Regions from separate parts of the Homo sapiens genome. Here region 1 is linked to region 2. The links come from fine-mapping of genetic effects on gene expression. A gene starts in region 2. The other region holds a variant in brackets. All regions are shown on one strand. Distances are from middle to middle.

The links. PIP is the estimated chance that this variant, and not a neighbour inherited with it, causes the effect. A credible set is the group of variants that fine-mapping cannot tell apart.
Region 1: its variant is the best candidate, but not a certain one, in a credible set for the expression of ID2 in whole blood (INTERVAL, PIP 0.64).

Annotation. Positions count from the first base shown.
Region 1 is chr2:8,646,734-8,651,160 of GRCh38, reverse strand. The region is part of intron 1 of LOC105373411 (a long non-coding RNA gene); the gene reads left to right. Among named protein-coding and RNA genes, the nearest start is that of ID2-AS1, 33 kb to the left of the region's middle. The variant A/TTAATTTA (reference allele first, on the strand shown) is at 1,895.
Region 2 is chr2:8,679,641-8,683,943 of GRCh38, reverse strand. ID2 (inhibitor of DNA binding 2) reads right to left here and starts at 1,888. Exons shown (of 3, transcript NM_002166.5): 1 at 1,431-1,888; 2 at 1,038-1,101; 3 at 1-259. The coding sequence starts at 1,778. The coding sequence ends at 1,045. It overlaps ID2-AS1 (ID2 antisense RNA 1), which reads left to right and starts at 2,081. Exons shown (of 4, transcript NR_110154.1): 1 at 2,081-2,117. RefSeq lists enhancers at 1,649-1,698, 2,186-2,689.

The sequences.
Region 1 (4,427 bases), 33 kb after region 2:
AAAGGATTCCTGTCTCTGGGTCCCTGGGTCCTGCTGCCTGTGACCCCTCTGCCCCATCTCTGTCTGGCGAGTCTCCTCCTCCAAGGGTCTATTCAAATGTGCCCTTTGCTAGTAGCCTTTCTAATTGCTCCTCTGAGGACCTCCGTGCTCCCACTGCATCTGTGTGCCCCTCTGCCCAGCCCCAGTGGCTCAGCTTGGTACCATTCCCCACGGCTCGTCTGCAGCCATTTCCTCACCAGAAGGCAAGCTCTTCAAGACCCCATGCTTTATTTATGCCATGCATGATTTTCTTAGTGTGTGGGTATGTTGGTCATGAGGGGCATCCATTGAATGATCAAAATAGTGTTATTGGATGCTTAAAAGATTTTTCTAAGTATTAATATACCATGAGTTTGAAACAAGTAACTGGCCAAAGGTGTGTCCTCTCCTCTATTCTGTGTTTCCTGGACCTTCCATGGGTCCCTTCATGGATCCCTTCCACGGGTCCACCAATTGCCAGTCTCTGGTTGGCTGCTTGTGGTGGGGCCAGGGAGGAGTGGAAAGGTTACCACTGAGACTGCAGGAAATTTGGAAAACCAAGGTCAAATAGGAAGTCTTGTGGCTGGACGGGGAGCAGGGGAAGGAGCTAGGGGATGTTCTTGGAGGGCACCTCCTCTTCCCCACCCCCTGCAGAGCTCATTCAACAAATATTGGTGACCAGCTGCTGGGGTGAACTGGATTGGAGATAAAGGAGTTGTGCTGTCACATGGGACAGGAAGGAGGAGCCGCCAAGAAAGGCTGGGACCTGAGGGAAGGAGTGCGCCGAGGGGAGTGAGTGAGGGGTGGCATCTTAAGGCACCCAGTGCCTGGATGGGGGAGATATTTTGACAGAAAGGAGGAAAGTGGTGATTATGTGACATTTCCCTAAAAAGTAGATCTTCAGAGTGATCTGTGTGTGTGTGTGTGTGTGTGTGCATGCACATATATAATATATATACACACATATTAGACATATATATTATATACACACAATATACACATTATACACATACATATACACATGCATATATAATATATACACATATATACACGTTATACATATACACATGTAATATACACATACATATATACACATGCGTATATGTAATATATACATCTATACACACAAGTTATACACATATACACACATATGTAATACACATGCTATACACATACACATATGCATATAATCACATATACGCACATACACATACATACACACATATACACACATACACATACGTACACACATATAATATATACATATATACACATACATATACACATGTTATATACACACATATACACGTTATACTCATACATATATACACATGTGCACATATACACGTACATATACACATATATAGAAATAATATACACATACACATATATACACATGCATGTATAATATACATATATATACACGTTATACACATATAGTATATAGACACATATATAATATACACATGTCATACATATAATATATACACATGTTACACACATGTAATATATACACACATATACATACACACATGCATATATAATATATACACATGTTATACATATACACATAAATATATACACATAATGTACACATGTTATACAATCATACATATATGCACATGTATATATATACACGTTATACCTACACACATATATATATACATGTTATACACATACATATATACACACATGCATATATAATATATGCACATATATATGCACATTATACCTATACACATATACACACATACGTTATACGCTCATACATACACATATATGTACACATATATAATGTATCAATGTATAATTTATGTTACATGTAAAATATATGTTATGTATAAAATAAATATATATTATGTACAAATTATAATTT[A/TTAATTTA]TATACATATAAATATATACATTTATATATAAACATATATGTATATGTTTTCTTTAAACTCAGGTTAAAGAAATAGGAAGTTAAATGTTATGGGAAGACTATTGGTAATTCTAGCCAAAGTAACTTGCTAATATTTTTAGTTTTACTGCTCTGGAATGCTTAAGGAAGATAAATGGGTTTTATTCTGAGACTCCAGTGCACAGATTGACTATTATATGCTGGACTTCAGGGAAGCAGTGAGCAATGATTTAGGGAGGTCATAAAATGGGGAAAGCGAAAACCAAAACACAAACACTGGCAAATTGGAATCCAAGAGATGATTGGGGCCTGCCAAGGATGGTTGAGTTATCCGTTACTGTATGACAGAGCCCCCACCCCCTGCCCAAAATGTAACAGCCTGGCATAACAGCCGCTTCAGGGGTTGGTGTGTGGGTCAGCAATTCGGGACAGCCTGACCTGCTAGAGACCAAGAGGCCTCTGGGGGCCTCAAGGCTGCTGCTGGGGAGCCGGGCCATAAAGGCCATAAAGGGGGCTCTTTGTGTGGACTTTTATCATCCCGAGTCCACCCTGGGTTTCCGTACGTGGCACCTGTCTTCCAAGATGGCAAAGGTGGAGGCTGCCGTCATCCCACTGCCTCACTTTGCTCAATTGCAGCAGCTATAGCAGCCACAGGCCAGCCCAGATTCAGGGGATGTGGACCCCCCTGCGACGGGAGCAAGGGCAAAGCTATGCTTCTGACAGCTAAGCCCACAAAGGGGATCTTTGGAAAGGGGATTTCCAGAGGAAGGTGGCTGACAATTTCACCAGAGAGAATTTGGGGTCCTAAGGGGAGGTCTGAGATGAGGGTGCACATTTTGGGTTTTTCATGGGGAACAGGGGAGTTGTGGAGTTGCATGGGGCCATGTCCCCCAGCAAATGCCCCTCACATGTGCACAAGGGGTGCTGTGCACCAACTTCTACTTATAGGCCTACTGCCTCGCTGTGCAGGACATGAGTGACTGGAAGGAAGCTCATGGAAGGAAGTTCCATGGAAGGAAGGATACGTGCAGGGTAAAGGTGGAGAGACCCAGAACAGGCATCAGTGAACCTCATCCCCTGGAGGAAAATGTGTCCCCAAGAAGCTTCTAGGCCACTTAGGAGGCAGTGGCTCTGAAGTCAAGGCAGGGCCCTCACTGTGTTACAGGATCTTTTAGGGGGTTGCTTTTCTGGCCAGAAACCTCTGTGGCTGGTGGCGCCTTTGCCCAAGTTCTTGTCCTGTATCCAGGAAGAATGAGGTATGCAGACAAGTGGAGGGTGAGCAAGACAAAGAGAAGCTTTATTGAGTGTTAGAGCAGCTCTGAGGAGGCTGCAGGGGGCAGTTCCTTCTGTAGGCAGGTAGTCTTGTCCAGTGTTCAGCAAGCAGCAGAAAGGAGGCCCTGGAGAGGGTGGTTCCTCTCTGCAGGCAGGTCCCCATTGACTTTCCAGCTCTCAGCAGAGAGGGTAGATCATCTCTGCAGTTGGTCCTCCAGTGCCCAGTCATCTTTCCATCCTCTGTCCTCTACCCTGCTCTGGCTGAGCCTGGGGCTTTTATGGACCTCAGAGGGGAGGAGGTACATGCTGATTGGTTCATGCATGGCCATGGGTGGGGTCAAAAAAGGCACCACATTCCTCCACTCTGGTGCAGGGATCTGGCAGCCCTTGGCCTGAAGATGGGGTCTTTCCAGGGACCTGCCTCCTTCCACCCAGGAATCTGTCTGCTTCCTGCTGCTGTTCATGGCACCCCAGCTTGGCCCAGACTTTGCTCCAAGATCGGAGCAGGTATCAATAGCAGGGAGAAGCCAGGCAGCTGGAGCAGGCACTTCTGAGCCTGCAAGGGCAGGAGGGCCTTCCCAGGTCCCCAAGAGTGCAGAGATGCCTGAGGCTGAAGCCGCTGGTTTGGGTGGCTGCAGTGGCACCTGGGAGGGCAGGGCTCCTGCCTGTTCCTGGCCCTCCAAGACCACGGGAGGCCCAGGTCTACTGCCTGGCTTGGGCAGCTGCAGCCATGCCTGTGAGGACGGGGCTGCTGCCTGCTCCTGGCTCCTGCTGGCTCCATGGAGCATGCAGCCCCAGCTGTGCCCCCTTGCAGCATGGGCTGGGGGCTCCTGATCCTTGCTGGGCCCCAAGCCAGTGTCCGGGGCAGGGGCGACATCTCCATGAGCTCTCCCCATTGCCCTTGTGCTCCAGGATGGCCTGGGATGGAGTGGATCTCGGGCCCTGGGCTCGGCCATCAGAAGTGGCAAGCTTGGCAGCCATCTTGACTCAGGGCAGACCCCAGGGACCCGGCCCTGGATGGCCTGTGTAGAGCCTTCTTCTGAAGTGCAGGAACCTGGCACCCTAGGCGGTGTGGGCACAGTGGCTGTGCCACTGGCCAGGTCCCAAAAGTGGTTGCCACTTCCACTTCCTGTCCTGGATCCCCAAAGTGCAGCCCCAGCTCTGCACTGGGGCCCCTTTCTGCCCAGCCATGCTGCTCCCCTGCTGCACTGCTCCCCCTCCTGAACGGGATTGGGCTCGGCCC
Region 2 (4,303 bases):
TATATAAAGAAAACCTTCCAACTGCAGAAAGGGCATTTAAAAGTCTTTTTCATAAATAACGAATATCACAGTCCAAGTAAGAGAACACCCTGGGAAGATGATCATTCTTAGTTTTCCTTCCATTTTTTTTTTCTTTTTAAAAAGGTCCATTCAACTTGTCCTCCTTGTGAAATGGTTGAAAAATAAGTTCAGCACTTAAAAGATTCCGTGAATTTGTTGTTGTTGTTGTTGTGCAAAGAATAAAAGAAATCATGAACACCTGCGAAAGAGTGGGGGAGAAAGGCATGTTTAAGAGAATGTAACCTAAGGGCAGAGGCGGGCGACTGGCGCCGGGAGGAAGCCACAGTTTGAACATTTAACCAAACACTCAAAGATTGGGCAAACCCTGGCGTCCAGATGCAACACACACACTCGCCTCGACAGCGCAAATTAAACATTAAAATAGCAGAGACTCAAGGGAAAAACTTCCCAACCCAATCTCCTATTTGGATCTCCAACAGCAGTGCTACAGGCGCCAGTCTGCTTCTCGTAACAATTATTTGATTGAAAACAGCCCTTTAGTTAACAGATAGGGAAGTCTGGGATCCCACATCACAGGGTTGAAGGCACAGGGTAGCAATCCTCAACTAGCCCAGAGAATCCCAGAGGACTATAGTTTTAGGGAAGGAGGATCACTATGGAATTTGTGGCGGTAAGATTAATTACAGTGGAGGTTAGTACCTCATAGTACCAGAGGACTCGTAGGAAGATCCAGGGCATTACATTTGCTACAAAGCCAATACACACGTTCCTCGGCCGCCTTCGTAGTAAGTTATTGGCATCATTTCCTTTTAAAGGAAAATGTTCTGTGATCTCGAGCACCCAAAGCTACAAGCTCCTTCATGTCTAGTGAGACAATGTAGTACGGGTAACACCGCGAAGTAAGCATGCATTTACCAAATCAGACATTTTATAGATACACAAGCAAAAACACATGCGCGCGCGCGCACACACACCGAGGGGCAGTTTACCCACGGGTGGCACAAGCAAACACTCACCGCTTATTCAGCCACACAGTGCTTTGCTGTCATTTGACATTAACTCAGAAGGGAATTCAGAAGCCTGGAAAGAAAGAGGATAAAGAGTACGAGGTTAAGACAATGTTAAGTAGAAAGGGTTTTTTTTTTTTTTTTTTTTTTTTTGTAGTCCACAGACCAGCAAGTTCCATTAAACACGTTTATGGTAACAATTCAGATTTAAAGACAGACGCATTAACATGTCAGAACTTACTAGCAATTTCACGCACAGCTCAATCTACAGCAGATTCTGAAGAAAATAAAGTTAAATAGCTCATACGAAAGTCACCGTCTGGGCTACGGATCTCCTAGTGACAGCCCAGACGACCGCGGGAGTGTGCGGCGGCGGGGCGGGGACCCCGGAGCAGGTCTTACCTGCAAGGACAGGATGCTGATATCCGTGTTGAGGGTGGTCAGCGGCGTCCTGGACGCCTGGTTCTGCCCGGGTCTCTGGTGATGCAGGCTGACAATAGTGGGATGCGAGTCCAGGGCGATCTGCAGGTCCAAGATGTAGTCGATGACGTGCTGCAGGATTTCCATCTTGCTCACCTTCTTGTTCTGGGGGATGCTGGGCACCAGCTCCTTGAGCTTGGAGTAGCAGTCGTTCATGTTGTATAGCAGGCTCATCGGGTCGTCCACAGGGGTTTTGCTCCGGGAGATGCCCAGGCTGTGGTCCGACAGGCTGTTTTTCCTAACGGACCTCACGGGACTGAAGGCTTTCATGCTGACCGCGAGGGAAGGCGAGACCGGGAGGGAGCTGGCTGCCCTGAAGCTCAGGCCGCCGCTGCCGCCTGCTGAGCTAGCTGCGCTTGGCACCGGGCTCGGCTCAGAATGAAGCCCGAGCCCGGCGGGGCGGCTTTTATCCGCACTCGCCGGGGCCACACGCTGGAGCTTCCCTTCGTCCCCATTGGCGGAAGGTGGCACGTCTATCAAGACGAGCGGGCGCTTCCATTGGTGGGCGCGGGCGCGGGGCGTGGGCTTGGTTCTTCCGCGTTCGCAGCCAATCCCCGCGGGGTGGGCGGGGCGCGAGCCCAGCTGGGGTGGTAAATAGAGTACAGTACAGTAAGTGCGGGGCTGGCGGGGGGCGGGGGGCGGGGAGCGGCGGGCGGGGGGCGGGGAGGAGGGAGGCGGGAGGAGGGAGAGGAGGAGGGAGGAGGAAGAGAAGGGAAGATGGGGGAGGGGAAGGGGGAGGGGAAGGGGGAGGGGAAGGAGGAGGGAGAAGGGGGCAGACCCTGGGCGCCTAAATATGCATTCTTAATTCTAATTCCAAGCGCGCGGCGGGACCCTTGCCCTGGGGGTGTTCCCAGACCAAGCCCTACACACCTTAGAGCTGTCGGCAGCTCTAAAATCACAGCTACACGGGCGAGTTCAGCACCGCAGGGGGGAAGCCACAGTTCACTGCAACCCATCGGAGGGAGAGCGTGAGGAAAGATAGAAAGCATTTCAGAAGAAAGTGAAAACGCAAATTAGGTTGTCACTGAAGAGTCACGTTTGTAGAGTGAGTTCGTCTCTTCAGATAAGGAAAAGTTATGTTAACACAAACAAACCACCCACGCACGCATTCGACGACAGGCTTAGTGTGGGCTTTTGCAACCCGGAGCAGCGCGGGAGGCATTACTGTAAACTCAAGAAAATGAGTACTTATTGCAAACCATGCCCAACCTCACCGGTCGCTAAGGAGCTCTCACAGGCAGGGCGCTTTCAGGGTTCCTTTTCAAGAAGGAGGCAGGGCTATTATAATGATCGTATTAATCGGAAATAATTAGGAGAATTTGCATATTGAAACTACATTTACATACACTGCCCTTGAAAGGCTGCCGGTCTGTGCCCTTCCGTGTAGGTGGCAAAGTAATGTGATTAATTATGCACTAATTGTGATTTCTGGTGTCACATTCCAACACCTAGAGGAGTTCCAAAGCTTTGTGACAGATAGGTGGCCCTAGCCATTGATAGACATCTTCACACTAAGGAAAAAAAAATATTCTGTCATATGAGGTTTGGAATCTTTTCAGCACTAGTACTGAATACGGGTTCAAGGTTTTTTTTTTTTTTTTTGGCTGAAAATCTTTTAAGAACTCGTTCTTTCAGTCTAAGTTTTAAAAAGTTTGCAGCTATTTACTTAAATACCTTAATTTTCACATAATTGTAGCTTATCTAGAATTCTGTTTTGACCACAGTGTGTCAGTTTCTTGTTTTTGAAAATATTTGCTCCAGAAAACAATGAACTAGAAAACTCCAGGAAAGGCAATATTCAAATCTTATTTACTTTCTGCCTCAATCTCTACCTCCTTTGCATTTCAGAAAGCGGAAGGGGCAGGCCTAGAAGCTGAAAGAAAAGCTCGATAATGGGGAAACAGTGTTTTTTCCTTCAATTAATGATTAATTTCTCAGCTGGTGGGGCCAGCAGTCTCTGACCGTCACGTGACAGCTATGCGCCCCATGACGCCTCTCCAGGGAGGCAGAGTGGGTGGCACTGAGGTGGAGCTCACCTTCCTGAAATTCAGCCCCCTCAGTTTGGAGGAAGGAGGTAAACTGTTTCCTGTCCAGCCAGAAGTTTGCGGAGGGCCTTCCCCAGGCCAGGCAATGCTGCCTGCGACTCTGTCCCTGACAGCGTTGGATGCACCGTATCTCTTCTGATATTAAGTCTGGAAGTGATTTACTATCCGAGTCCTCCCACAGTTCGAGCCTTTTGATGTACTTTGTGTGCATGTGTTTCTGTCACATACGTGCCACAGTGGAACAGATTTTGTTTTGACACTATTTTGGTTCATGATGTTATACTTTGACTATTTTACAATAATAGCCAATGTAAACAAACATCTTTGGGATTCTCAAATTATTACTTATGATTCTTGGACATTGCAGCTCTTCGATACTGACGCATTCCTAGCTTTTTCCAAGGACACCGTATGTTAACATCCGTGCCAGCCTCATTATCCCCACAGCCAGGCTCTGGGTTGGGCGGTAATGAGCATTGTGCGGTTTCACTTTACACTTTGCAAAGTTGATTAAGGCAGTGCCTTCTCCCATGATCATTTTTGTACCCTGATGTAGTAAAATGGCTAAATATGGTGAAAGTTTTCTGGTGTTTCTTTCTTTAGCTGCCATGTCAGAGTCCAGTCTGCCTGGCTGTGTTGAATTCGATTCTATTGGCACGCTACCCAGTTTTACATTCATTTAAAGATCATTTAAAGGGGATTACGAAGCTGTATAAGTTAATGATTTAAACGAGGCCTAAGTTACTAGTG